Linked DNA regions of Homo sapiens: regions 1, 3, 4 and 5 are each linked to region 2. The links come from fine-mapping of genetic effects on gene expression. A gene starts in region 2. Each other region holds a variant in brackets. All regions are shown on one strand. Distances are between the middles of the regions.

Region 1 (5,915 bases), 100 kb before region 2:
GGCTGTGGGACCGGGGACAATCTCCCTCCTTTCCCACCTGCCTCCTCTGTAAGGACTCTTCGGGGACTTTCCAGCTCTGGCCTTTCAGGACTCCCCATTTTCACTGTCCCTCTGAGGCGGCGGGTGGTGGGTGATCACCCCATTTAACAGACGAGGAACAGGTCCAGACGGGGAAGCAACTTGGCTGAGGCTTCAGGGCGAGGAAGTGGCAAAGCGGGGCTGAGAACCCAGGTCTGTGGACCCCCAGCCACAACATCAGGGGCCCCGGCCGGACCCAGGCTTCTAAGAATGCAGTGCTGGTCCCAGAACCTGAGAACAGGGACTTTCAGGCTGGCTGGTTCCCAAGTGTGAGTGCAGGAGGGCCTGGCTCGGCAGGGGGTGGGAAGGGGCCAGCCACTTCCTGCTGGGGCTGGTGCGGTCCCCATGCGGTGGCCATCAGAAGCTGGCCACTTCCTGGTCTGGGCTGCCTTCCCCTTTCTGAGCCTGGGAGGGAACGAAGGAGCGGAGTGAGGTGCCCTTGCGTGCTGCGGCCTGGACGACGTCTGGCCTCTTTTCATTTCCCCTGCATACCGCTTCGCTCTCCACAGCCACCAACGGTCGGAAGCTTCTGGGAGCTGACTGCCAGGTCCCCTGTCCACAGCCGAACCCCTCCTGCCTACGGGCTTCCTCCTCCCTGGGGCTCAAGGGACTCCTAGCCCTGCTGGGGGTCTGCCCACCAAGGGCCTAGAATGAGGCATTGTCGTTTGTACCGAGGCTGAGAGGTGGCCATCGGTCTGAGGTTACACGCACAGCCAATAAGTGGCAGAGCTGTAATTGGAGCTCAGATGTGTCTGACTCCAAAATCCACATCCTTTGCATATTTAACAACCCCCTGTCCCCTCAGAGGAAGTCTGACCAGAGGAGGCTTGGACGAGGGGACATGGAATGACCCTGCTAGACACTGACCTCTGAGGCCAGTGATGGGACCAGCTTCTCCTTCCTGTTAGATCCTGGAACCCAGCCTGGTGCATGCCCCAGAGCAGGTGCTCGCGACACTGGCAGAAACACAAAAGGCATCCTGACTGTTCCTGTCCAGCTCCTGACACTCATGAGCACCTGCTGCATACCAGGCCTGGGCGTGGAGACACAGGACCAAGGGAGAAGACCTTGCCCCAAGATCGGTGGCCATCTTCCGTACCAGGCTTAGTGTGGACAATGTTTAAATGCACCTCAAATTCCACATGCAAGAGAGATCCTTTAAGTCCTTCCAGCAGGAAAGCCAGACCTGGGTTGCACAGGGACCCCCTCTGGTGCAACAAGGAGGTAGCAGGGTGTGAGGATGAAGAACGTGGAGCCAGGCAGGCCTGGGTTCAGATCCCAGCTAGACGAGCCTAGGGTGGCCTTGGGGAAGTGACTTCATGTACCTCAGTTTCCTCACCTGTAGAATGGGAATCAAACCATAGAAAGTGCCTTACAAGACCTCCCTTCAACCCACTCTGGATTAACAAACACTCTCCCTGTCCTTTGAAAGAGAGGCTAGTAGATGCCACAGCTTCCTGAATGTTCCAGGCAGGCCGGCCGCTGCTATTCCCACCTAGGCGGCTCCTCTGACTCAGTGAGGCTTCTTCCCAGACCTGCAGCTGCTGGCTGTAGTGGCCGAACCAGGGAGACCAGAATGTGAATGGGAAAGAGAGTCGTGTCACAGAAAACCAAGAAAGGACTTTGCAAAGGCCCAGTTATAGGCGAGTTGTCAACGGAAGAAAAAAAAAAAGTGCTGCCAAATGAGGTGTGGGCAAGACAGCCATAAAAGACTGGGGAAGACAATAGTTAAAATCCGTCACAAACTTTCATTGAATTAGGTGTAGACTAAAACTGGAGGGAGGGGGTGATTATTAAAAATCCAGAGGGAGTCTAGGGAGTCTGTGCTCAGATGGCTTCACAAGCATCTCTAAGGTCCCACTCCGCTTTAAAGGACTCCTAATGAGAGCCATAAACGCTGCTGCACAGGTTGGTTTTATGCAAGAAAAACAAGGTAGGACACCAGCTGGGGGCCTCAGTCTCAAAGACAGCCTTGGCCCTGCATCAGAAGATCATCTCATAAAAGTACACGCGCACGTGTTACGTTCAATAAAATGCCTACTTTATGTATCATATGATTTCCTGCATTAATTTTTTTTTCTATTAACCAACCACTGGTTTTGCTCTCATTGGATAAGAGGCTTCTGCTATTAATAGCACTTACCTCACTGGGCGGATGTGAAGGCTGAACGAGGTACCGATGCAAAGTGTCTGGCGCGATGCCTGGCACACAGTAAATGTTCAGCAAATATTAGCTGTAATAATCATCTCCAAATCCAGAACTCTCACTTGGCAGATGAGAAAACTGAGTCTCAGCGGCGTGGAGTGAGCGGGCTGCAGACCAAGGCCTAGAATCTGCAGCCCGTGTGAGAATCGCCCACATCTGAAACCCAAGCCTGCGTCTCCCCAGGGCCTCTCTCGTTGCATATTTTGGAGGGGGTGTCACTTCCCTGAGGAACGTCAGGTGGAGGTCACGGGAGCAGTGGTGGGTCCCTCAGCATCCTTCAGGATCATTGCACCCCAGCCTCCCACTGCCCATCCTACTCGGTGGAGGTCTGAGTTTTCCCTCTGGTTCAAGCTTAGGGTCAACCCTAAGCTTGTCTCAGTGACTCTCTCTGTGTTCACCGATCTTGTGTATTTTTATCTCAGAGGCTTTCATTCGTGTCTTTAATTATTTGTTTCAATGTCTGTCTCTCTTCTGAACGACTGGGAGTCCCCCGGGGAGCAGGCCTGATTCATCTGGAAACCCTGAACCCAGCCCAGTGCCTGGCTCCAAGCAGGGGCTTCACGCGTGTTTTTTGAACAAGTGAGCAA[C/T]GGAACAAATGTGAACAAGTGGGGGTCCCCAGTGTCTCATCGTCTCTGCACCAGACTTTCTGGCCAAGGTTGTAGCAGAGAGAGGTTCACACTTTGTCTGACTTTGGAACCAGCCAAAAATGCCTCCAGGATTCATGGATTCCCTGCCATGGTACAGGCCCAGCAGCTGAGGCCCTAGCCTAGTGCCCAGACCCCTCCCGCTCTTTGTTTTCCTCCTTTATCCCTCCAGCCTCCATCCCTCCAGCCTCCATCCTTGTATTGCTCCAGCCTCCATCTTTCCATCTCTCCAGCCTCTATCCTTCCAGCCTCCATCCTTTCATCCCTCCAGCCTCCATTCCTCCCATCCCGCCATCCTTCTATCCCTCCAGCCTCCACCCTCCAGCCCCTATCCTTACAGCGTCCATCCCTCCCATCCCTCCATCTTTTCAGCCTCCATCCCTCTAGTCTCCATCCCTCCAGCCTCCATCCTTCCATCTCTCCAGCCTCCATTCCTCCAGCCTCCATCCCTCCATCCCTCCAGCCTCCATCCCTTCATCCTCCATCCCTCCAGTCTCCATCTCTCCAGCCTCCATCCTTCCATCCCTCCATCTCTCCAGTCTCCATCCTCCTCTTCCTAGGGAGCCTGAGAGTGTCTGGCAGGGCAGAACAGACCCTGGGAAACCCAGCCCTGGAGTGAGGCTCCCCTCCAAACCGTGAATGGGGTGTGGTTTGGGGCTTTGTCTCCTCTGAGTCACCTCCATGGTGTGGTGGGGTTGACTCAGACAGAGAGTGAGAAGGAGAACTTGGTTGGTCCTCCTGGTTTCCACAGGTCCTGAGACTGGCCAGGGTGGGGCTGGGTGGGGTGGGAGGACAGGGAGAGGCCCACACTGAGGAAGGTGTTAGAACCACACACTGGGAGGACTGACATGGATCTCAGGTCCCCGGGAGCATCTAAACCCCACACTTTCTGCTCTGGAACAGTGAGGGCTGGAAGCAGCAAGGTGTGGCGGAGGGAGGAGTCTGACTCTGTTCTTACCTCCTCCCCTCCCTAAATTTCAGACTCTTCACCTTACACCAAGGGGGTTAGTTCCAAATCCCCTCTAGCCAACTTCCAGCCTGAGTGCCAAGGCCAGGCTTTACCTAATGACCATGGGGACTGGAAGAGAAGAAAAACAGCCAGACGCAGTGGCTCATGCCTGTAATCCCAGCACTTTGGGAGGCTGAGGCGGGTGGATCACTTGAGGCCAGGAGTTCAAGATCAGCCTGGCCAACATGGCAAAACCCTCTCTCTAGTAAAAATACAAAAAAGTTAGCCAGGTGTGGTGGCATGCACCTGTAATCTCAGCTACTCAGGAAGCTGAGGCAGGAGAATCACTTGAACCCAGGAGGCGGAGGCTGCAGTGAGCTGAGATCATTCCATTGCACTCCAGCCTGGGTGACAGAGCAAGACTCTGTCTCAGGAAAAAAAAAAAAATAAAAGAAGAAGAAGAAGAATGACCAAGAGCTACCCTTATTTGAGCACTTACTGCATGCTAAGGACTGGCTGATTGTTCCATATGCATGACCTCATTTAGTCCTCATGATAGCCTTCCAGAAACCCACTTTGCAGATGGGGAAACTGAGGCTCAGTAGAACAATGACTTGCCGCAGGGCACACTCTAGGCTAGATGGTGAGCTGGGCTTCCCAGGTCTCTTGACCCCCAAATCCTCATCCTTGACTGCTTGCTCCCAAAGTTACTGTTTCCCCTCATCACCTGCACCCCAAGATGCTCAAAGTGGTATCTTCTGATTCTAAGAGGGTCAACCAGGGAGGCCAGCCAGGGCCACTGGTCTCTGACCTCTCTTGCTTGTTGACAGCCCCCGGGGGCTGTACTGCTGACTGCAGCCTCCCCAGACCATCTCTCCCCAAAACCCTGTCAGACAGCTCTGGAGGAGGCATTTGGCTTTCCTTTTACGGTTTTTCTTTTCTTTTAACTTCTCTGCAACAAATATAGAAAATACAGATAAGCACAGGAAAGAGCAAGAAAATCACATTCCTTATCATCTTCATTAGAATAGTGACATTTGGGTGCATTTCATTCCAGTATTTTTCTTTTATGCACTTGCATTGCCAGTTTTGTTTTTATGAAGACAGGATTGTTTGTCAACAGACATTTCCTGAGTACCCACTGCGGGTGGGGAGCTGTGCTCCGTCCATCAGCGACAGCTCCGCCTCTCCCCTCGCAACAGGTTCTTCCCTGAGAAGGGCTCCCGCTGCTGGGCTGGGCAAGATGGGCACCAGGAGAATGGGGCTTTGCAGCCTCGCAATTCAGAGCCAAGCTTTGGAGAAGGTAGATCTGGGCTGCTGGCTGTGTGGCCGCGGGGGTGCCGCTTGGCATCCTTTTCAAGAGTGGAGTGGCTTCCTTTTCTGTGGAGTGAGAGTCACCACTTGTCACACAACAGGTTTTGAAAATTAAATGGCCAAGTGAATGGGAAGGGTTTGGCGCCAAGTCGGCGCTCGGTGAGTGTTTCGTGGGCTCTCTGTGGGTCTCAGGGGACCTCTGTGTTGAGGGCATTTTACTTCCTGGTGCTCTCAGGGAGCAATGCTGGACCCAGGACTTGGGAGACACCTCATGACAGTTCAGTGATTCAAATCTTGCCTCTTGGCTTGAGGCAGGGCCTGGAAAACCTCTCACCGCCCTGCGGTGTTTCCAGAAAACACAGGCTCTGGCGCAGTCATCTTCCTTCCCGCCGGTTCCTAATATGGGTGTGATTTGCAACCGAAAAACCAAAGCCAACTTCACAGCTGAGACCACGAGCTCATCTCTCTTTGGGTTCTGTCCCAGCTCCCCGAGCCCTGGGGCTGATGAGGGTGGCGGAGGAGAGTCAGGGAGAGAAGGGGACCTGCAGAGGACGGAGGTGGGGTGCGGACTCGGATGAGGACTCAGGCGAGCTGCAGGGCCCAGAGGCACTCGGCCCCCCAGAGGTGCTCAGTACATGTTTGCCGAGTGAACACGAGTGAATGAGGAAGCCAGCTGAGGCGTGCGCACTGGGAGAATGGGAGGAAAGAAGCCTTCATCTTTTCT
Region 2 (5,915 bases):
TGGGCAGGAGATAGGTTTCACCACGGGTCCCTCTGGACAGGGGATTTAGGGCCAGGCTGGGAGAAATTTTCAGTTCTAGAAGAGAGTCCTCTGCTCTCTTCGCTGGACTAGGCTCCTGTGTGATTCGGGATATGGGGAACAGAGGCCTCCTGGGAAGGAAACGGGGTCCCTGGCAGTGTCCGCTGAGGCCCAGTTGCTACTCAGGAAAGGGTCTGCCCACAGGAGGGCGGCCGGCTGGGGGCGAAAGTGAGGTTCTGAGAGGAATGGTCAGACAGGCAATCATCGAGACCCAGCTCTGGCCGCCCTGTGATGGTTGCTGGAAACCCCGCTATGAGCTGACTCCACGTGGAGGTAGGTCACAGCCAGTCCTTACCTCCCCCAGGCAGCCTGTGGGCGAATTGAGGGATCAGGACAGCATGGACTGGCTTGGAGTCCTAGTAAGCTTTGAATATGAGAACTGGACATTTCACAGATGGAAGTGTGAGGCCCAGAGAGAGGAGGGGTGGGTCAAAGGCCCCCAGCAAGGATTGAGAGGTCTTATTTTTTCATGACAGTGATGGCTCCCGGAGGCTGGAGCACCCTCCATGTGCCAGGCCTGTGCTAAGCACTTTACACACAATTCTATGAAGGGCCACTATGAGTGCCCCACTTTACAAATGAAAGAAATGAGGCTCAGAGAGGTTTAGGCAACTTTCCCTAGAGCGCTGTGGGTGAGGGAAAAAGACACGCTCAGGCAGAGGGACTGTGGACCCCAGCTCCTTCCATAGCCCATGGACCTCTTAGGCGGTTTCCCAGGGCACACCTGCCCCTTGTCTGGTATACCTGGGGATCCCTGCCCAGGCGCCACAGAGTCCACATGAATCACACCTGCCCTGGGAAGGCGGCACCCTCACTGCCAAGAACGCACTTAGAGAGCACTCCTAAATGCCAGAGGGAGACGAATCCCCTTCCTGGGGCAAAGGAGCTGGCTCTATTTGCCCGGGGATGGGTTCTGGGTTTACCCAGCTCTAAGTCAAGGTAGGGTAGGGGAGTGTCCTGACCTTCTGCTTCCTAGCCCTGCTGTGGACAACTTAGGGTGCTCTTAGGTGGGGGCCACTGGGGAGAAACTGGCCTGTTTGTCCATCGATCTGATGGAAGAGGGAGAAAAGACGACGGTCCATGCCAACTGGGGAAGGGCGAGGGTGTCTGCATGCCCCAGGTGGGGGAGTCGGAGTTCTCCCTCCCATCAAACAGACGACAATTTTTGTCGGTCCGGGATGGGGAGGAAGCAGGTGGAAATTGGGAACAAGCTAGCCTGTTCTGTGGGTCTTCCCCGGGTGCCTGAAAACGCGAAGACAGAAGGCGTCCATCTTATCAGAGGTGAGGAAGGCGGCCTTGGTTTGACACAAAGCCATCGGTTTGTCTGAGACCTGGCCGCATGGATGGCAAGGAAAGGGCAGCTCCTCGGGGGCGGTCGCCGCGCCTGCACCCGGGGCCGCAGCTGGCGCGCATCTGTAGCCCGGCCGGGCCCGCACCTCCGCGGCTGGCAGGGCGCGGGCGCCAACTAGCGGCGGCTCCCGCCACTGTGCCTGCCAGGCGGCCCCGCGACCTTGGTCTGGGGACCCAAGGGCCTGCACCCGCCCCCCCTCCCCCCGCCGCCCTGGTCCCTTGGATCTGGTGCCCACGGGGAGCCAGCGCCCTACGGAGAGCCGGAGCCGTGCCGGGCCCTGCGCCAGGTGCCAGGGCCCACAAGAGTCCCTCATTCTCTGGAAACTTGTCTGTGAACCCATCGTAAGCGGAGAGGGAGAAATCAGGCGGAGGAACAAGCAAAGGGCACGGTGCAAACCGAAACCATTCGACAAATGGAATTTACCACCACCTGAAACAGCGGGTCATGGTCCCGCAACCTGCTCGAGGGCAGCACGTGTTGCCCGCCCCCGGCCAGGGCCCTACCTGGCCACGACGCGCTGCGCCTTCTCGGAGACGTTCCCGGAGGTGGGAGCGCCCAGGCTGGATCACTCGCTTTCCTCTAGTTCTGCTGCTCGTGCCAGCGCGTCCGAGGGCGCGCGGGCCTGGGTCCGCAATCGACAACTGCCAGGCGCAGGCTCTCTTAAAAGGTTCAGTAAGGGACCTTTGCCGTCCTTCCTTTCGACACGGCCTGAGGGCGTGCTGTGAGGTCCCGAGGTGGGTAGGGGCCAGCTCTCCCGGTGGTCGGGGTGAGTCCAGAGTCCTTCGCCCCTGGAGCGCACGCGGGGCTTGATTTCGTTTGGCAACGACGAAATGGCGCGCGCTGAGCAGGGGTCAGATCCATGATGAGATCTTGCGGCCACCGTCGGATCCTAAGCTTCTTTGCTTCCGAGGCTTGGAATTCATTGTTTTGCACCTGTCGAGAGCCGGAGGCAACGAAAATCTAGCCCCGTCTCCAAAGCGGCGGGGAGGCTCAGCACGCGTTCGTTCCCCAGAGTCTAGGGAGGTGTCTGGGGCGATAATTCGGAATGATTGTGGCTTGATCTTTCCCGTTGCCCTCCCAACTGTAGCCGGCCCCTAGGTCTGCTCGACAGACTTAGGAGGCGGGAGAGGAAGGGGTGATTTGCAGTGAAGCCCAGGAGAGGTTGGGCCACGCGGCTGGGAGTGGGAGCGGGGACCCGGAGCCGGGCGGGCAGGCAGTGCCTTGGCGAAGCTGTCCGCGGTCCCTGCGGCGCAGCCGGAGCGCACGGGCCCAAGAAGAAGTGGGGTTGGACCCGCAGAGGCCACTTTCCACCCGCATGGAGAAAGAAAATTCTCTCCTCTGAAAGCGAGGGCCCTTAGCTTTGCAGCCACTGCTGTTTTTCTTTTGCCACCGACGCGCGTACCGTTTCACGATGCAGGACCGTGGTTACATGCGTAAAGGAAAAAAAGAAAAACGCATTTTGCAGGCCTCGTCGTGTTTTTCAAAGAGCCACAGGCCGCCACAACGAAGAACGACGCCGCGAGGCCTGCAAGATCCTGAAACTTGTTTTGAGGGGAGAGCAGAGAGGAAAGGGGTTGTTGGCCCCAGGCTACTTAGGGTCCCTAGGAGACTCCCTTCCGCCTGTCCCCGGTTTGGCACAGGGGCCACCGAGGCTGGGACCAAAGCCGCGCAGGGCTGGGAGCAGCAAAGGCCGCCGGCCGGGCGTGGACGACGCGCAAAATCCCGTGTGGGGTGGAGGCTCTTGGGTCAGAATAATGTGCGGGACGAGGGAGGTGAGTAACCTCTTTGGGGCGGCTCCCAGTGCGGCGTCACCGGCCCTGAGACCCCGCGGCCCCCAGCCCGGGGTTGCAGAAGTCACAGGCCCGAAGCAGCAAGAGCTGGGGAAGCCCGGCCGCGGCCAGCGGGGAGGAGGAGCGAAGGGGTTGCGCCCCAGCGTCAGGGAGCTACGACCCGAGAGAGGGCGGCAAGGGCGCCTTCCGTGGGACCCGGACGTTCTAAGCAAATTTCTAGCATTTGCCCCGGGCTCCCAGAGCTCTCGGGGGCCCTGGGCTGTGGCACTGGGGCCTCCTCCGCGGGGTGGCGCCTTCCGCCCCTCCCCGTTGGGCGGCCTCCGGCAGGCCCCGTTCCTCCCCGCGAACGCCACCGAGGTGCCCGCGATGGGGGCTCCGCCGATTGGCTGTGCGACGCGTCGCTCCGCCAGCCCCGCCCCGCGGGCCCCGGGGGTACTAACCCCGCGCGGGCGGCCGCGGCCCCGCCACTTGATTCTGGAGGATTTGTTCTGGGGCTGCGGCCGCGGAGTCGGGGCGGCCGCGGGCGAGCTTCGGGGCGGGAGGCGGCGGCAGCGGCACAGCCCCGCGCGGGCCCCGCCGCGGCCCAGGCAGCCGGGACAGCCACGAGGGGCGGCCGCACGCGGGGCCGCGCGCCGAGGATGCGGGACTAGCCGGGCAGGCTGCGGGCGGCCGTCGGGCCAGCGAGGCCTCGCAGCGGGCGGGCCCTGGCGAGTAGTGGCCGGGCGCCGCCCCCTGCGCCCTGAGGCCCGGGCCCCGCCGCTTCTGCTTTCCCGCTTCTCGCGGCAGCGGCGGCCGAGGAGGCGCCCGCGCCGGCCGCCCCCGGGGGAAGCCGCGCCGTCTCCGCCTGCCCGGCGCCCTGACGGCCGCTGTTATGCGTATTCCCGTAGACCCAAGCACCAGCCGCCGCTTCACACCTCCCTCCCCGGCCTTCCCCTGCGGCGGCGGCGGCGGCAAGATGGGCGAGAACAGCGGCGCGCTGAGCGCGCAGGCGGCCGTGGGGCCCGGAGGGCGCGCCCGGCCCGAGGTGCGCTCGATGGTGGACGTGCTGGCGGACCACGCAGGCGAGCTCGTGCGCACCGACAGCCCCAACTTCCTCTGCTCCGTGCTGCCCTCGCACTGGCGCTGCAACAAGACGCTGCCCGTCGCCTTCAAGGTGAGTGCGGGACCCGGGGCGGGAGGGCGCCGGCCCTGGGGCTCCGGGCGTCTGAGCTGCGGGAGCCAGAGCCTCGGGAGCAGTGGGGATGGGAGGTGCCCGAGACGCCGCGGCGACACCCGGGCACCCGGTTCAGTCTGGCTGCGCGCTCGGCTCCGGGACCTCGGCGTTCCGTTTTGGATGCGCCCTGCAGGAATGACTTTTAACGGGGTTGCCCCGCTCCACCTGGGTTTTGGGGCGCCTTGCGTAGAGACGTTGGTGCGGAAATGGGCGGATGGGGTTTTGCGCCCCCCTAACCCGGATCGCTCAGATACAGCCCTGCGGGTAACGGAGAAGAGGATCCCGGGACAGGGGCAAGGACACCGCGGGTGGGGTGCGAACGGTGAAAGGGCCTACCCTCCGCCTCCAGCACCCCTCCTCCCGCGCCGCTTCGCAAAAGCTTCCTGCTCACACCCTCGGGCTTCCGAAATTTTACCGGACGGCGCTAGGCCGGGATCGGGGCACTGCTCTCCAGACGTTTGCTCGGGGATATTATGCGTCCCGAATGGCGAGTTGAGATTGGGGGACCCCTAACCCTGGCAGCCCCCAGCCATTTAGAGGACCTTTTTCTTTATGCCAGGGAGTAGGCGACTGTTTCATTTTCATTTTTTTAAGGGGGCAGCGAGATGAAACGAAAACGCCTCGGTTTTCCCCTAAACCTCTCACAGCTGCCGTGAGAAAAGGGCAGGGCAGGAAGGGCCGGCGGCTGGGGGTGGTGCTGCCCGAGGTGGCTGGAAGCTGAGGCCGTCCCTGCTCCCATTAAGACGACTCTAAATGGGAAAAAAAGGAAGAGTGGCTCTTTGAGGTCTCCCGGGTGACATCTTAAAATACCAGTGGGGGAAATCTCGCCGGGAGGGGCGGGAGGCCCGTGTGACTTTAATCGTCAGATCGGAGGTTTTACTGTCACTTGGAGCTTAAAAGGAGTCTTTGAAATTAAAAGAAGACAGGATGTTGACAGGAAATCTGGTCTTCTTAATCAGATCCCAAACATTTTCTCCTTGAAATTTTTACCATATGGATCCCCAGTCCCTGCACGCGGCGGCCACGTTTAAATAGTTGTGACTCTGTTTAAAGTCTGATTCTTTTTCAAAAGGCATCCGCCTCTCCGTGCTCCTGGGGGTGGGGGATTTGGGGGAGATGGTGTTTAGGGGGACATCGCCACCCCCATCCTGCAATTCCCGGCAGGTGCATCCTTCCATTATCAAAAGCCCCACTCTCACTTTAAAGGGGTTTTCTGGTGGCCTTTTTCAAAACACCAGTGAGTTTTGCATTCTGCATTTTCTCTGCATAACGAATTTAGGCTCTGCAGAGGCCAATAAACTGGGCCTGGTCCACATTTCAGGGCCAAATTTCATGCCCTAAACAGCTCTTGCATAAATTGAGTGGGGGTAGCAGCCCTGTTGTTATTATTGTTGTTACTCTTTCTCATTTGGAGACTTCGTTGCTAGGAGCATGTTGATTCCTCTTTCGCTGCAGCCGAAGACAACAGGGGAACTGCACCCCA
Region 3 (5,915 bases), 87 kb before region 2:
AGCGCCAGGGGCCACATCCCCACAGCCTCCGCTTTTGCAGAGGGCAGGGGAGACAGAAGTCACCGAGAGGAAGTAGAGAGCCCTCCCCAGACCCATCTGAGTGGGGCTGCCAATCGCCGGCTCTGGAGCTTCGAGCAGGGCATGGTGCCACGCCTCTCAGAACCCCATTTTCTCATCTGTGCAGCAGAGACCCCCCGACTCCAGAGGGCTGCTTTGAGGGTTAAATGAGCAAAATCTCGTGAATGTGTGAGGAATAGTCATTATTTCGATAGGCGTGATTGACATTTTTCTCACTAGAGTGTGAGTTCCAGGGGCAGGGGTTGTGCCTGACATTGGTAGGTGCTCAGTTGGTTTGTGGAGTGAATAAACGAGTGTAGAGGGAGCCGTTCTCTTGGCCTGTGCTGGAGGCTTCCTGGGGCCTTGTTCAGCACATGTGTGTGCTCACGTTTGTGTGCACCCATGTGTGTAGGCATGCATGTGCATGTGTATGTGCAGGCATGTATGTGTGTGCACGTGTGTGTAGGCATGTATGTGAATATGTGTGTGCAGGTATGTATGTGTGTGCAGATGTGTGCATGCAAGAATGTATGTGTGTATGCATGTGTGTAGGCATGTATGTGAATGTGTGTGTGCAGGCATGTATGTGTGTGTAGGTGTGTGTATGCAGGTAGGTATGTGTGTGCATGTGTGTGTGGGCATGTATGTGAATGTGTGTGTGCAGGCATGTATGTGTGCGTGTGCAGGCATGTATGTGTGTGTGCAGGTGTGTGTGCGCGCAGGTGTGTGTGCAGGCATGTGTGTGTCCGGGCATGTACGTGTGTGTCCAGGCATGTATGCGTGTGTGCAGGTGTGTGTGTGCACAGGCATGTAGGTGTGTGTGTGTGGGCATGTATGCATGTGTGCAGGGGTGTGTGTGTGTGCAGGCATGTGTATGTGTGCAGGTGTGTGTGTGTGCAGGCATGTATGTGCGGGAGTGTGTGTGCACGCATCCACATGCCTGCACACTCCTGCATGCGGGTCTGGCCCCGGTGTGGAAATGTGGGTCTGTGCATGGCCTGTCTGGGTCTGTGTTTTGCATATGGGTCTGGCATGTGGCCATTTGCATGTACTTCTCAGTCTGTGGGCCTATAGCTATGAGTGTGCTCACCCCACAGGTGTCCAGGCTTGGTCCGGAGTGAGGGTGTCTGATTATTGGTGTATGGCGGGTATGGGAGGTTGCCTCCTGCTCTCCTGACTCCCTCTCCCCAACCAGGACTCCAAGTTGTGAGCCCGCCTGGGAGTGCCAGACTATGTAAAACAGAGACCAGGCCCAGGGAAGCCCCTGCAGAGTGGCCCCTGGGGACTTCCAGGCCCCTCCTCCCTGGATGCCCCTCCCCTCAGTAAAGCCTTCTGCCCCTTCCAAAGTCTCATGACTCTCCACTCAGGGGCTTCCTCTCATATCTGGGGGCTGCACACAGTGCCCAGATTTCCCTGTCTGCCCTCTCTCCCACCACTGCTTTCAGCCCCTCTTGCAATGCCAGGCCTGGCGTCTCCCTCCTTCCTTTCTGAGGCCCCCGCTTCACTTCTGCACAGTTCCCCCAGCTGCTTTTGTGAGCTCCACTGTGCGCCAGCTCCTGGGCCCTGGCCCTTCGCCTGCATCATGGTTACCACTGAGAGAGCTTCTAGCTGAAGCCCCATTTTACCAATGAGGAAACTGAAGCTCAGAGAAGTTAAGGAACTTGTTCGAGGTCACACAGCAAGTGAGTGAGAATCAGACACAAACAAGACTCCAAATCCAGGTCTCTTTCTCATACAGCCACACCACCACCATGCTTCAAGTCATATCAATGACTGAGCCTCACTGGGAGGACCGTGTAAACCCCTTCCCCAGATGGACCCCAGGGGTTCAGGCACCTCCCATATCCATGGCTCATAGGATGAAGGCTCCTGGCTCTGGAAAAGGCCTCCTGGCCTCCTTGTGGAGGAACTCAGGCTCACCCTCTGCTCCTGGCGGAGCCATGTTTGGGCCTGGAAACCTCCAAGCCTACCCCAGTTGGGCCAACTTGAAGCCCCCAGGTCTTCTCAATGCCACATAGCACTTGCCTGGCGGGCCCCATGGAGAGGTCAGAATCCCCTTCGGCAGGGTCATTACTGTTTCCCCAGAACACGCTTCCATTTGGCAAGGACACGTGTGTTGGGGGAGCCATGTGGCTTTGATTTAAATTTCACCCTGGAAAAACGATGGTTTGGATTAAGGGAAGAAACAGTTGGTGAAATGTCATGGAAAGAAAGGAGGGGAGAACAGGGAACCTTTGTAGCAAGAGCAGCCCCCAAACTTTCAAACCCACATTCCAGAGGTTTCTGAAGGCCTGCCATGCAGACCTGACCTCCTACCCCAGCATGCTCCTGTCCTCTTCAGTAGCAGTGAGGTGTCCTCAGGAGATATCCCACTGGTCCTGCTCCCTCCTCTTACAGAAGCTGAAACAGAGGCTCAGGGAAGGGTGGCGACCTGCCTGGGGCTATGATGAGTTCTGGTGGCTCATGGAGCTCAAAGGAGGCTAGGGGTGGGGTGAGAAGAGGGACATGAGGCTCTGCTTTCCCCCACTCTGTTGGCACGGGGCTTGACCTCTCTAGGCCTCAGTGTCCCCAATGAGAAAGGGAAGAAAAAGGAATTACAGTATTTTCAATCTCCACTGGAGCTGAGCGAAGCCCAGGAGCCCTGTGGAAGGCCAGTGTGCTTGGCTCTGACTTCCTGACCCTTTGCTTATGCTGGGCTTGGCTCTGACAGCATCCCACGCGTGGCCTGCGCTGAGTTCCCAACACCCACAGTCCCCACCCTACAGACAGCAGACTGAGGCTCCTAGAGGCTAGGAAACTTACAAGGCTCCAAGAGGCTAGGAAACTTACGAGGCCCCTTGGCTAGGATGCGGCCCCAGGGGCTGTTCCTAACCACTGGACTGTGAGGTTGAGGCTGGGAAGAGAGTGGAGAGGATTTAGCCCAGGGCTGTGAGAGCTGGGAACAACCTGAAGCCCACACCCCCAGGAGTACCTCACAGTTTCTAGGTCACCAGCTCTGAGTCAGGAAGTCTCTCGATGTCATCCATTCATTTAGAGGCGGGAGCTGAGGTCAAGCAGAGGGATGTATCCAGGGCCACACAGTGGGGAGGTGCCACATCTCCAGATGGCCAGTGGGGGCTCTGTGGTGTGGATCCTGGAACCAATGCGGGATGACACTCTGACCCGTCAGGCTGGCCTCAGGGACTGTGCAGCCCTGCATCTTCATCTCTGTAGTGGCTGCTTGGGGTCGGAACTCCAGCTGTGGTTATGGGTCCATCTGAGACCAGGGTCAGGGCTCAGTGTGTGGCCGGGGCTATATGTCAGCAATGAGGGCTTGGTCTGTGACCAGGGTCAAGGCTGAGGAGTTTAATGCAGTGAATTGGCTGTAGAAGATAAAAATGGACTCGAAACCCAAAGGACAGAATCGCTGATGGGGGTTGTGCGTGCTGTGATGGGCCAGGGAAGAGCTGGGCACGGGGGCTCTGGATCTACAGAGGCAGGAGCTGGGGCACTTCGACCCCATGAAGTCCTCTTCACACCCACCTCTGCCTGGTGCAGCCCTCCCCCTTCATCCCTGTGCCCCCAGGACAACCCCATCTCTTTCCTCTGGGGAGAAGCCACTGGAAGTCATCCCCCTCCTGACTTGAC[A/G]CCTAAAGGGGCCAGAAGAACCATCTGCCCCCCAGTGCTGGGTTCCACCCGTGCTCAGAGCCCCATCTCACCCCACAGGATGGGAAGGGAACCATCTGGAGGACAGGAGAAAGGCCGCTCTGCACGGGTGGGGCGGGGATGCTGACGATGGACTGTCCAGAGCCAGGACTTAACCTGGACAGGTTGGTTCTTGAGTTCATGCTTTTAACCAACCACCATAGATTCCCAGAAGCACTGATAAAAGGTAGCCTTAGTATTATTTTAGCCAAGTCTGGCAGTGTGTGGCAAAATGCAGAGACTCAGGGGCCACCCTGAGAGAGTGCTGAGCAAGTCACAGCACACCCTGGGCCCTGGCACACAGTAGGGGTTTAACCAATGGGAGCCGGAGATGATCCGACAGAAGTGGCTTTCAGGCCCCAGGGCCCCCAGGTCAGGAGACACCACAGTGCGGAAATGAGAAGCCAGCTGGAGACCCCTTCCATGCCTGTCTGGCATGGGAACACAGCTGGCACTGCTTGATGGACTGTGCCTAAGCACCAGGGTCAGATAACCGGGCGCTGCTCTTCCTTTTTTTTTTTTTTTTTTTTTTTGAGATGGAGTCTTACTCTGTTGCCCAGGCTGGAGTGCAGTGGCATGGTCTTGGTTCACTGCAACCTCCGCCTCCTGGGTTCAAGCAATTCTCCCTTCTCAGCCTCCCCAGTAGCTAGAATTACAGGTGTGCGCCACCACGCGTGGCTAATTTTTGTATTTTTAGTAGAGACAGAGTTTCACCATGTTGGCCAGGGCGGTCTCGAACTCCTGACCTCAAGTGATCCACCCGCCTGGGCCTCCCAAAGTGCTGGGATTACGGGCGTGAGCCACTGTGCCCAGCCGGTGCTGTCCTTGTTGACTCTGTCTGCCCCAACCTTGCAACATCGCACTCTCTAAAAACAGACAAAAAATAACCGCAAACAACTGGGCAGGAAGGGACCCTAGAAATCATCACCCCTGATTTTACAGAGAAGAAAATTGAGGCTTAGGGAGAGGAAGGGACTTGGCCACAGTCGTACAGTGCTGTGGGAACAGTCCAGAACAGGGGACTTGCAAGCACACGGCTGCCCCAGGGACAGTGCCTGGTGATTATAGCCAGCATTTACACGGGCCTGTGGGAAGCCCCCTCAGGCTTCTTCTCATCTAATCCTCCCAGAGTCAGGTGACCATCAGGGTGGGCGCTTAGGGATGCACTCACCTAACACGCAAATGGAAGTGGTGAGGTCTGAGCCTGGCCACTGAGCACCAAGCCAAGTGCACCCGTGCTGTGCCACTGGCCTCATTCACACAGCCCAGGCTAGGGGGCCCTAGCATGTCTCAGCCTCCGCGCCAGCCCCCTCACCCCAGAGTCTTTGCAGAAGTGCAGCCTGTCCTCATTCCACCAGGAACACTGTTCTCTTCACCTCCTAGGCCATCTCATGAGAGGTAAGAGGAAGAAAAACCCACAGAGACAGAGGCAAAGCCATCCCACACCTGCCACCATTCCCCCTGGTGGATTTTCCCTGTGTCTCTGAATGCAGAGGCACCAGTTAACGTGGAGAAGAAATCAGGCTGGGGGCTCAGGAGCTGTGGCCTGGGGCGACCAGGGGCCAGGGCTGAAGGTGGGCAGCAGGTTGACCGACTAGATGCAATTAATTCATTCAGCACCGACCTTGAAAAGTGTCAGAGGGACTGCAAGAGCCAGGTCTAGTATCACGGACTAGAACACATCACTTGCCTTCTCTGGGCCTTTGTCATCCCACCTGTAAAATGAGAGGCTTGGTCCCATCAGTGATTCTCAGTCCCAGCTACACAGGGGATCTTTTATTTTTATTTTTGTTTTTATTTTATTTTATTAGTTTTATTTTTGTTTTATTTTTGAGATGGAGTCTCGCTCTGTCACCCAGGCTGGAGTGCAGTGGTGTGATCTCGGCTCACTGCAACCTCCGCCTCCTGGGTTCAAGCAATTCTCCTGACTCAGCCTCCTGACTGGATTACAGGCACAGGAGACCATCCCCAGCTAATTTTTGTATTTTTAATAGAGACATAGTTTCACCACGTTGGCCAGGCCGGTCTTGAATTCCTGGCCTCAAGTGATCTGCCTGCCTCGGCCTCCCAAAGGGCTGGGATTACAGGTGTGAGCCACGACGCCCAGCTTGGGGATCTTTTGAAACATATACTTAATTGATTCTGGGATGGACACCATTTAAACTCTTCCCAGT
Region 4 (5,915 bases), 64 kb after region 2:
TAAAAATACAAAAATTAGCCAGGTGTAGTGGCGTGCACCTGTAGTCCCAGATGCTCAGGAGGTTGAGGCACGAGAATTACTTGAACCTGAGAGGCAGAGGTTGCAGCGAGCAGAGATTGTACCACTGCACTCCAGCCTCAGTGACAGATCGAGACTCCGTCTCAAAAAACAAAAAACAACAACAACAAACCTCCCATATCCCCTTTACCTAGGCTCACAGATTGTCAACATTTTGCTCCAGGGGTTCTCTCTGAGTATCTGCATAAATTTTGTTTGCTGAGCCATATAGAAGTACCTACACATGTCAGGACCATTCCCCGTGGGCCTCCTGAGAACAAGGAGCTGCTCTTACATAACCAGGAACAATAACCACGTTCAGGAGAGTTCACATTGACACAATACGGCTCCCACCATCCCAACACTCTCCTTTATGTCATTTTGCCATGTGCATGTTTTTTTGTTTTGTTTTGTTTTGTTTTGTTTGAGACTGAGTCTTGCTCTGTCTCCCAGGCTGGAGTACAATGGTGCAATCTCAGCTCACTGCAACCTCCACCTCCTGGGCTCAAGTGATTCTCCTGCCTCAGTCTCCCTATGCCCACCACCGCGCCCGGCTAATTTTTTTGAATTTTTAGTAGAGATGGGGTTTCACCATCTTGGCCAGGCTGGTCTCGAAATCCTGACCTCATGATCCACCCATCTCGGCCTCCCAAAGTCCTGGGATTACAGGCGTGAGCCACCACGCCCAGCCGCCATGTGCATGTTTTTAATATGCATCATCAGTTTTGCGCTGGGTTCTCCTTCTTCCTGCTTCCACCCACCTACGTTTCTCGGGTCCTGCCTGTTCCTGGAGCTTGCAGTGTGCCTTGCCTCTGACTGCTGCAGGTCCACCGCGTTTTCCCGCTGGGGACAAGGCTGCAATGAGCCTACCTGTGCCCTAGAGCAGCGCTTCTCAGAGTTCACCCCGCATCTGATCTCCTGGGGCTCTGGTGGGAATGCAGAGCTGGCTCAGGACTGCAGTGGGGCCTGACCCACCACAGGAAATGTGGACACAGACCATGCTTTGAGCTGTGAAGCCCCTGCGCCGGGACTTGTGTATGATTTTCTTTGGTGGGAAGATTGAGCTCAAGAACTCAGATGCTGTTTCTTGGAGCTTGAGAACTTAACGTCACCAAGTAGGGTCAGTCCAAGCTCGACAATGGCTGTCCTGTGTGTCCGTGCTCCCACGAAGGTCCAGGCCCTTTGCTGCCTCCCTCGCCCCACCCAGACTCCCCTTCCTTCTTTCTGCACCACAGCCCAGGCTGGTGATGGAAACAGCAGCTTCCCATGGTGGACAGGGCTCCCTTCTGTTCTCTCAGCCACGAGCAGCACCCGGAGGGCTGGTGTGATCAGCCTTCCAGGCTTGTCCCAGACACTTCTGTGGGTGAATATTTCTGGAACTGAGTATGAGTTATTACGTGGTCACAGACCTCGGTCTGCCTGCCTTTAGCTCACTTCTGTTTACAGCCCAGGCAACAGAGGCACAGAGAGATGGAGCGGCTTGCCCAAGGCTACACGGCCAGCCAGACAGAAGGACTAGAGCTCAACCACCAGGCAATGGTAAGGAGGAACCCCACTCTCCAGGGAGGAGGTGAGAATGCCTCTCACCAACTGCACTGGGGAGAAAATGACATTCTAGAAAGACCCATCATGATCAGTGGATGGACATTGGACATTTTGAGGTTTTGAGGGTGTGGGAAAGCCAGGTCAACCAGTCCAAGTCCCTGCCTCTGCTAGGGGTGCTCTCAAAATTCTGGAAGTGTGTCCCTGAGCCTCTTGTGGAACCAACACCAGGTCCCTGGTGGTATGATCTCAGCCCCTCTCTGGGCGTGCGGACCTCCTCCCACATCTGTGCAGGTCAGGGCCATTCCTGCACCGCTGCTTCCCTCTGCTCTGCCCACATGCCCCATTCCTGCCCAGGGAGAAGGGGCTCAGAGCAGGTGCCTCACCCTCCCACCTACCTCCTACCTCCTACCACCTACCTCCATGGTTCTGCCTGACAGCTCCTCCCTCTTTCTCACCCACCCAGACCTGGAAGCCTCTCTCCGCTGTCCTAAGCAAAGGACACGTGTCCACAAAGACATTCCCACCTCTAGAGACCACCTCTAGTGCACAGGCACTGCCCGGTGGGCCCCTTGCCCATTCTCCCTGCCCTAGCCTTCTGTTCCTCACCCGCTGTAGCTCCTCCCTTCCTTGGGGCTATCCCTTGACACTTCCCATAAACAGCTTTCCATCACTGACCTGCACCACACCGCTCAGCCTCTGTGCAGACATCACAAAGTCAGAGAGGCCCCTCCCTTGCTCAGTAGCCCAGCCCCGAGGCCGCTCCGTCACGCTGTCCGGCGTGGGTTCTCCACGGCACTCAACGCCGTCTGAACTGTGTCAGGCTTTCTCGGTTGATTATCTGGCTCCAACCACTTGAAAGTAACTCCAGGGACCAGGACCTCATCTGCTGTGTTTGCTGCTGTCTCCCCAGATCCCAGAGAAGGGCTTGGCATGAACGTGGGTGCATGATAAATGCTCACTTCAGGAATGAATAAAGCGCACCTTATAGAGCACATGGTGTTTTCATGGCCGTAACACACTCAGTCCACACAAGCCTGCAAGGTAGGTGGTTACTCGCCCCTTTTGCATATGAGCACATTGAGGCTCGGAGGGGTGAAGGGATTTGGCAGAAGTTACACAACCAGAAAGTGGCAGAGCTGGGACCACAAGCCCCAGTCTTTCTGACTCTGAACCTCTTGCTCTCCCAGGGGAAGGCATGAACCCTGCCCCGGTGCCCTCGGCACTGGGCAACATCTCCCCTTGCATGAGGAGTCTGCTCTGAGTCACCTGTCCTGTCCTGCCCGTTGTTGCTGTGATCAGTGTCATTTGGGAACCCATAATTCCCCACTGGAGTCAGTCTTGCTTGGAGGTCAGAACCTGCTTCATCCCGTTCTGGCTGTGTGAGCCTGGGCAAGCCACTTCGCCTGCCTGGGTTTCAGTTTCCTTGTCTGTAAAATGAGCACAGTAGCCATCCCCACAGCCTGCTACAGCATCAGAGCCCAGTAAACGGGAACTGTTATTCGTGTCACTTTATGCACATGCGGATATTAAAATATTTTCACTACCAAAGTGGTTGCTCCATCCATTCTAGTTACAAAAAATTATAATGACACACAAAGTGAATGAGCTCCTGGCACCCACTGCTGGTTTGGTGAGTAATTTCCAAGACTGTTTTTTGCCTCATCGAAAGAAAT[C/A]GAGGAGGGGATTAAAATTATAAGCCTCGCCATCCTGCGCTGCTGAGTCCTAACTTGATTCTTCCACTCAGCTCTTTGTCTCAGAGACGTCCCTATGCTTTATCTTTCATTTTTATTTATTTTTTTTTTCTTTCCTTCCTTCCTTCCTTTCTTATTTTCTTTTGTAGAGACAGAGTCTCACTCTGTGGCCCAGGCCGGAGTGCAGTGGTGCGATCGTGGTTCACTGCAGCCTGGACCTCCTGGGCTCAAGCCATCCTCCCCACTCAGCCACCCAAGTATCTGGGACTACAGTGTGTGCCACCATGCTCCGCTGGTTTTTTGTTTGTTTGTTTGTTTGTTTGTTGAGACAGAGTCTCGCTTTGTCACCCAGGCTGGAGTGCAGTGGTACTACAGGTGTGCACCACTACACCTGGCTAATTTTTCTATTTTTAGGAGAGATGGGGTTTCATCATGTTGGCTAGGCTGGGCTTGAACTCCTGGCCTCAAGTGATCCGCCTGCCTTGGCCTCCCAAAGTACTGGGATTACAGGTGAGCCACCGCACCCAGCCCCAGCTGATTTTTTAAATAATTTTTTTTAGAGATGAGGTATTGCTATTTTGCCCATACTTGTCTCAAACTTCTGGTCTCCAGCAATCCTCCTGCCTTGGCTGGGATTCCAGGCATGGGCCACTCTGCCCGGCTGCTGTACCTTTTATGGAATATGCTCCCTCCTGCCTTCTGTTTTGACCTTCACAGGTCTGTGACATGAACTGGGCAGGCAGCATCCCCTTTTTGCGGATGGAAAAACTGAAGTTCCAAAAAGTAAATGACATCTGCCAAAGGTCACACAGGGAGGAAGCGGCTACATCCCAAATCCAGATCTTCCCACTCTGGATGGCTGAAGATGTGTTTTCCAGGATCCACTGCCCACTCGGAGACAGACTGCTCTGTACAGCTTCATTGTTTTCATTCATCCGTTCCTTCCTTCATTCATTCCACCTGTGCCGGAAGCCAGGCCTCCTGCTGCGATGAGTAAGATTCCAGTAGTGGCTGTGTACAATTGGCATTCACAAAGGCAGATGAGAAGTCTTCAGCTGCTCCCCACACCACGCAGGTCTCGTTCCTGTGGGGAGAGCACTGGGAGGAAAGGGGAGAAAGAATCTTCATTTCTTTTCTTTTCTTTTTTTTTTTTCTTGAGATGGAGATTGCTCTGTCGCCCAGGCTGGAGTGCAGTGGCACGATCTCGGCTCATTGCAACCTCCACCTCCCAGGTTCAAGTGATTCTCCTACTCTGCTTCCCAAGTAGCTGGGATTACAGGCATGAGCCACCATGCCCTCCTAATTTTTGTATTTTTAGTAGAGACAGGGTTTTGCCATGATGGCCAGGCTGGTCTCCAACTCTTGACCTCAGGTGATCTGCCTGTCTCAGCCTCCAAAGTGCTGGGATTACAGGCATGAGCCACTGCGCCCTGGCTGGGATCTTCATTTCTATGCTGCTTATAGTTTTAGAGACAAGCAAACATGATTTCTTTTGTTACTAAAAAGAAATAAAAAAAACAAAACCAGTGGGATCCCTAGACAGAGGTACACTCAGGGTAAAGCCAGGTGAGAAACTGGGTGTGGGCTGTGCCCTGGCCTTGCTGAACGGCTTTACTGGGCGGCCCAGGACACCTGAAATCTGAGACGCCAGCTCCTGGGCAAAGTCTCAGAACGTCAAAGGGTAAAAAAGGGAAGCGTGGAACTGTCAGCAGTGCTGAGGCCTCATTAAGAGAGCCCCCAAAACCCAAAGGTCATTTCCTCCTGCACAGTGGATGTGTTTATTTTACATATCTGGCCAAGCACAGGGGAAAAAGCCAGGCTATAGAGCCAAGGGGCCGAGAAAGAAAGGGGAGAAAAGAAAACAGAAAGTGAAGTGGTGTTTTATGAGCAGCTTTAAATCCCCCTCCCACAATGAATCATGAGGGCTGCTAACGAGGACGACTCCAGAAAGTCTAGGGGTGGGAGTCAGGGGAAACAGGGAAATCGGATCAACATGGATGAAAACTCATGTGTGCTTGCTCACACATACACACACATGCACGCACATGCACACACGCACACACATGCAGACACGCATACACACACATGCACACATGTATACACACATGCATGCACACGCACGCTCAAACATATGCACACACACGGAGCTGTTCTGAGGAGAACAGAGGTGGGGAAGAGAACACATAACCTACGAGGTTAAAAACGCCAGCTGGGCCGGGTGCGGTGGCTCACGCCTGTAATCTCAGCACTTTGGGAGGCCAAGGCAGGAGGATAACCTGAGGTCAGGATTTCGAGACCAGCTTGACCAACATGGCAAAACCCCATCTCTACTAAAAATACAAAACAATTAGCTGGGCGGGGTGGTGTGTGCCTCTAATCCCAGCTACTCAGGAAGCTGAGGCAAGAGAATCGCTTGAATTGAAGAGGCAGAGGTTGCAGTGAGCTGAGATTGCGCCACTGCACTCCAGCCTGGGTGACAGAGCGGGACTCTGCCTTGAAAAAAATAAATAAAATAACAACAATGACAACAACAATCCCAGCTGTCCCAAGAAGAGCCCTGTGTGGAGAACCTTCATGGCCGAGGCCAGGGGCAGCAGGGAGACACTGCCACTGGCAGGAGCT
Region 5 (5,915 bases), 42 kb after region 2:
AGAGCTGCCCAAGACCATGGGAACCCACCTCTTGCATCAGTGTGACCTGGATGTGAGACATGGAGTCAAAGGAGATCATTTTGGAACTTTAATATTTGACTGCCCCACTGGATTTTGGACTTGCATGGGGCCTGTAGTCCCTTTGTTTTGGCCAATTTCTCCCATTTGGAACAGCTGTATTTACCCAATCCCTGTACCCCCATTTTATCCAGGAAGTAACTAACTTGCTTTTGATTTTACAGGTGCATAGGCAGAAGGGATTTACCTTGTTTCAGATGAGACTTTGGACTGTGAACTTTTGAGTTCATGCTGAAATGAGTTAAGACTTTGAGGGACTGTTGGAATGGCATGATTGATTTTGAAATGTGATGACATAAGATTTGGGAGGGGCTAGGGAGGGAATGATATGTTTTGGCTGTATCCTCACCCAAATCTCATCTTGAATTGTAGCTCCCATAATTCCCATACGTTGTGGGAGGGACCCAGTGGGAGCTAATTGAATCATGGAGGTGGTTTCCCTCATACTGTTCTTGTGATATTGAATAAATCTCACGAGATTTTATAAGGAGTTTCCCCTTTAACTTAGCTCTCATCCTCTCTTGCCTGCCACCATGTAAGACATTCCTTGCTCTTCTACCATGATTGTGAGGCCTCCCCTGCCATGGGAACTGTGAGTCAATTAAACCTCTTTCCTTTATAAATTACCCAGTCTCGAGTATGCCTTTATTAGCAGCGTGAGAATAGACTAATACACCCAAGGAATCTCTTAGGTCAGGTTTCCCTAGAAGCAGATCAAGAGGTGGGGATTTTTGTGGGGAGGACTTTCAGGGGAAGTGGAAAGAGGGAAGCAGGACACAGCAGAGAAAGAAAGTTAATCTATGACATCCCTGGGCTGGAGGCCAGCCTCATTCTGGTCTCATGAGGGCCTTTGGAGCATTAATTACAGCACTGACTTGTCCCCTCCAGATAGCAGACTTTTTGTGTCCTCAGGTAAGTCAGTTGGCAAGACTTGCCACACCCCCAAAGGAGCATAACCTCCACGGTGAGATGTCTACTGTTTGGCAGAGAGCAATTCTCCAGAGAAGGGGGCAGATGTGAGCAGTTTGCAGCCAATGCTCACACAATGTTAACATGACGGACCTGGGTGGTAGCGTGGGGTGTCAAGATGATCAAGGACACTGCAGTGGATGCTGTGGGTGAGCCTCTCAACAGACCCCCTTCACTGGACAGTTGCTCCCATGCTCCTGCTGCTCTAAACCTAAGGAGGAAAAATGGCAAGAACCCAAGATGCTTTAATAAAATATATGGCTGGGCACAGTGGCTTACGCTTGTAATCCCAGCACTTTGGGAGGCTGAGGTGGGTGGATCACCTGAGGTGAGGCGTTCGAGGCCAGCCTGGTCAACATGGTGAAACCCTGTCTCTACTAAAAATACAAAAATTAGCCATGCATGGTGGCGGGCACCTGTCATCCCAGCTACTTGGGAGGCTGAGGCAGGAGAATGGTTTGAACCCAGGAGTTGGAGGTTTCAGTGAGCCAAGATCGTGCCACTGCACTCCAGCCTGGGTGACAGAGTGAGACTCCATCTCAAAACAAAACAAAACAAAAATGTATGCACACCAGAGAGTGGAAGATAAAGCCTCTGAAAATTCAGGGTCCCCCGTATTGATGAAGATCTTAAGGAACCTGTGATCTGAGGCATGCCAAGCCATCCCCTCTCAGAAAAAAAGACAAGTTGCTGCATTTGCACCTCTACCATACAGTAGGATGAAAAAGCACCCCCCCACCCCACCACGAAGATATGTCCATGTCCTAATTTCCAGAACCTATGGGGATATTACCTTATTTGGAAAACAGATCTTTGCAGATGTAATTCAGTTAAGGATCTCAAGATGGGGAGGTAATCTTGGATGATGCAGGCAGGTCCTAAATGTAATGGCAAATGTCCTTATAAGAGACATACAGAACAGAGGCACATAGGGAAGAGGAGGAGGCCATGTGACCACAGACGCAGATTGGAGTGATGCAGCCACAAGCCAAGGAATGTCTGGAGCCAAGAGAAGCAGGAAGAGGCAATACACGGGCCTCGTGTATTGCCCGTGTCAGCCCTGCCAACATCTTGGTTTCAGACTTCTGATCTCCCCAGCTGCGAGAAACTGTCCTTCTGTTGTTTTATGCCCACCTTCTTTGTTCTCCTTGAATTTCAAAGCAGCATATACCACACTTGGGAATGCTACTCTGACCTATTTATTAGGCAATTCAGAAAGCTTTCAGTTCTGAGACAAAGCAAAAGAGAACGCTGCATAGGTCCAAGCTGCAGTGTGAGCTGCTCTGCTAGCCATGAGACTGAGAAGATTTATGGTGCTAGATAAAGAACTTGGGTGGAGCCTTTAACAAA[C/T]CCCAGTAGAAGAGTCCCAGTACAGACCTCTAAAATTTTCTGCAGTGGAGAACTACTCTCCTTTTGAAAAACAATTGCTGGCATGCTACTGAACCCTACAGAGACTCAGAGCCTGACCATGAGACATCAAGCAACTATGCTGGCTGAGTTTCCCTCTGTGAGCTGGCTATGACCAGATCCACCAAATCCTAATGTGAGGCAGGCACAGCAGTAACCCACTGTACAATGGAAATGCTACAATGCACTATTCACAATAGCAAAGACATGAAATCAATCCAAATACCCATCAATGATAGACTGGATAAAGAAAATGTGGTACACATACACCATGGAATACTATACAACCATAAAAAGGAACGATATTATGTCCTTTGCAGGGACATGGATGGAACTGGGAGCCATTATTCTCAGCAAACTAATGCAGGAACAGAAAACCAAACACCACGTGTTTTCACTCATAAGTGGGAGCTGAACAATGAGAACACAAGGACACGGTGGGGGAACAACACACACTGGGGCCTTTCAGGAGGTGCGTGGGGAGGGAGAGCATCAGGATAAATAGCTAATGCATGCTGGGCTTAATGCTTAGATGATGGGTTGATAGGTGCAGCAAGCCACCATGGCACACATTTACCTACGTAACAAACCTGCACATTCTGCACATGTACCCTGGAACTTAAAATAAAATTAAAAAATAAATAAATAAATAAATAAATAAATAAATAAATAAGTATTTGTCATAATATAAAAAAAAGAGAAATGCTACAGTGATATTTGGGATTGAGACTGGCAGGTCCAGCAGGTACAAGTGGGTTACATGAAGAAGTGTGCCAGACCCCACGCCACCCACTTATGTTGTGTCTCTACCCACCCCTCAACACACACCTGTAGCCTCATGGCGATTTCCTGAAGCCGACTGTCAGAGGGGTAAGGGGCTCAGGTCTGGTTCATAGGTTGGCACACAGAACTATGAATAGATTTGGTCATCTCCATCTCATGGAGGAAGAAGTGTGACATGTCCACAGTGACTCCTGAGCTAGTTGATCAGCAGCCTGAAAGGACAAGATTAGAATATCTTGGATGGTGTGGTTGGGGAAGGCCCGCCCATAGAGGGGACAATTGAGCACAATGCGTGGCAAACACCCCAGTGTTCACAGAGGGCCTTCCCATTTACAGAGCACCATCGCCCATGAATCATGAACCCCTGGATCCGGGGAGGTGGATCCCTTTGTGGCTCCCTGGGCTGGGTTCCTGCATATCAGTCCTGGCTGCAGCAGGCTCCAGGTATGGGGATCTGTTTCAGCTTGGGCTGCCCAGAAGCAGACTTTGAGAAGAGAATTCACATGAAAGTGATTTCTTAAGGAAGTACTCCCAGGACAAGCCAGTGTCAGAGTAGGGGGAGCTAGACATGGAGGGTGAGGCCAGTTGAAACTGACCTGTGGGGGGCTCCGGAGTATAAGTTACACCTCAGAGTTTGTGCCCAACTGCAGGCCAGGGATCTGGGCTTCTATGCTTCTGCATGTGCACCTGTCAGTCATTCCTTTTTTTTTTTTTTTTTTTTTTTTTTGAGATGGAGTTTCACTCTTGTTGCCCAAGCTTGAGTGCAATGGCGTGATCTCGGTTCATTGCAACCTCCGCCTCCCAGGTTGAAGTGATTCTCCTGCCTCAGCCTCCCAAGTAGCTGGGTTACAGTCATGCGCCACCATGCCCAACTAATTTTTTTCTATTTTTAGTAGAGACAAGGTTTCACCATGTTGGTTAGGCTGGTCTTGAACTCCTAACCTCAGGTGGTCCACCTGCCTTGGCCTCCCAAAGTGCTGGAATTACAGGTGTGAGCCACCGTGCCCTGCCCACCTGTCAGTCATCACCATGGTAAGACAGCTCCAGGGGTCACGAATATCCAGGCACTCTGGCTCTGTGTGTGTGTGTATATGTGTGTGTGTGTGCATGTGTGCATGTGTGTGTGCATGTGCATGTGCGTGTGTGTGTGTGTGTGTCTGAATTTTGTGCACACAAAGCCCCTCTAATAGCTCAAGGGGAGCCCTCGAGAGAGAGTGGCAGGCACAGGCTGTTAGAAGCAAAGACACAGAGGAGCCAAGGAGGAGCTCACAGAAATGGAGTCATCTCCAGCCTCCTACCTAGTGATGCCCTTGGCATTGCCTGGTGCACTGGGCCATACATTATCCTGCTCAAAATTCATGTACTTCTTAGAACCTGAGAATGTGACCTTTGGAAATAGGGTAACTGCAGATGAAATTAGCTAAGACGAGGCCATACTGATGCAGGGTAGGCCCTTAATCCAATATGACAATAAGATGAGGAGAAGAAGACACAGAGACAGAGGGAAAGGGAGAACGCCATGTGAAGATGAAGGCAGAGACTGGAGTGATGCATCTACAAGTCAAGGGGCTCCAAGGATTGCCAGCAACCACCAGGAGCCAGGAGAGCGCCTGGAACAGATTCTTCCTCAGAGCCTCCCGTAGGAACCAGCCCTGCCAACACCTTGATTTTGGACTTCCAGCCTCCAGAACTGTGCAAGGAACAATGCCTGTTGTTCTGAGCCTCCCAGTTTGTGGCTCTGTGTCACAGCAGCTCTAGGAAATAAACACACCTGGGAGCATCTGGGTTATAGGTAAGAGGCAGCATCTGAGGCCCCTCAGCACTGATGGGAGACGGACAGGCTCACACCATCATCATCTGGCCAGAAGGACTTGGAAAGATGCTTATGTTCCACAAGAGAAAGGAGAAAAAGGAAACCACACTTCCACAACCTTCCAGGAGGTAAGGAGCTGTAGCCCCACCCAGAGGCAACAAACCTGGATCCCAGCTATGGACAGGAACACCACTAGTTCAGGCTGGAAAATGTATCCAAATACTGCTGCAGTTGTTTTTGGAACTACATCTGGCTAAATGGGAGAGGTCCTGGGCCTGGCAGCTGGACCAATGCCCAGTTACAGAAAGAGGAGGGAGTGGCTGGCTACAAGGTAAGTGGGCAAGGTTGCGGGAGAGGGAAGGAGTCACTCTCCTTTGCTCCAGAGACCCCTTGTCCATGAATGCATGTTTAGGAACAGCAGAGGAGGGGGAGCCTGGCTGGGGTCTTGCCAAGTTTACCCTCTGGGTGGCAGACCAGAGGCCATATCCCCTCAGCCCTGGCATCTTTTGCTGAATAAAGTATATCCACAGGCCAGAGGAAACCACCAAGGAGAAAGAATTCACTAGAAACAACATTGCCCAAACTTCACTCACTCAAGTACCATCTTCACACATTTTGCCATGTCTCAGGGTCAGCTCAGTATATACATAGATGGGTAACTTGGATTTCATCAAAATAAAAGTAGATAGTTAATCAAAAAACACTATCAAGGCCAGGCACCCAGGCACAGTGGCTCACGCCTATAATCCTAGCACTTTGGGAGGCTGAGGCAGGCGGATCACCTGACTAGCCTGGCCAACATGGTGAAACCCCATCTCTACTAAAAATGCAAAATTAGCTAGGCGTGGTGGTGCATAAATGTAAT

What was found. PIP is the estimated chance that this variant, and not a neighbour inherited with it, causes the effect. A credible set is the group of variants that fine-mapping cannot tell apart.
Region 1: its variant is the best candidate, but not a certain one, in a credible set for the expression of RUNX3 in whole blood (TOPMed, PIP 0.53).
Region 3: its variant is the best candidate, but not a certain one, in a credible set for the expression of RUNX3 in whole blood (INTERVAL, PIP 0.51).
Region 4: its variant is the best candidate, but not a certain one, in a credible set for the expression of RUNX3 in whole blood (TOPMed, PIP 0.79).
Region 5: its variant is the best candidate, but not a certain one, in a credible set for the expression of RUNX3 in whole blood (TOPMed, PIP 0.79).

Annotation. Positions count from the first base shown.
Region 1 is chr1:25,028,677-25,034,591 of GRCh38, reverse strand. No RefSeq gene overlaps it. Among named protein-coding and RNA genes, the nearest start is that of MIR4425, 8.1 kb to the right of the region's middle. RefSeq lists enhancers at 71-130, 811-870, 1,871-1,920, 2,461-2,670, 4,959-5,028 and 2 more and a silencer at 3,427-3,476. The variant C/T (reference allele first, on the strand shown) is at 2,872.
Region 2 is chr1:24,928,044-24,933,958 of GRCh38, reverse strand. It overlaps RUNX3 (RUNX family transcription factor 3), which reads left to right and starts at 3,683. Exons shown (of 5, transcript NM_004350.3): 1 at 3,683-4,372. The coding sequence starts at 4,091. RUNX3-AS1 (RUNX3 antisense RNA 1) reads right to left here and starts at 3,502. Exons shown (of 4, transcript NR_183341.1): 1 at 1,933-3,502. RefSeq lists silencers at 1,445-1,664, 3,335-3,804, 4,005-4,444 and enhancers at 1,980-2,569, 4,009-4,742, 4,915-5,094, 4,743-5,477.
Region 3 is chr1:25,014,823-25,020,737 of GRCh38, reverse strand. No RefSeq gene overlaps it. Among named protein-coding and RNA genes, the nearest start is that of MIR4425, 5.7 kb to the left of the region's middle. RefSeq lists enhancers at 1-133, 392-1,288, 1,246-1,405, 1,446-1,515, 1,606-1,715. The variant A/G (reference allele first, on the strand shown) is at 3,685.
Region 4 is chr1:24,863,707-24,869,621 of GRCh38, reverse strand. LOC105376876 (a long non-coding RNA gene) reads right to left here. Exons shown (of 3, transcript XR_947082.3): 3 at 3,884-4,391. Among named protein-coding and RNA genes, the nearest start is that of MIR6731, 53 kb to the left of the region's middle. RefSeq lists a silencer at 233-433 and an enhancer at 2,128-3,327. The variant C/A (reference allele first, on the strand shown) is at 3,276.
Region 5 is chr1:24,885,981-24,891,895 of GRCh38, reverse strand. No RefSeq gene overlaps it. Among named protein-coding and RNA genes, the nearest start is that of MIR6731, 30 kb to the left of the region's middle. The variant C/T (reference allele first, on the strand shown) is at 2,398.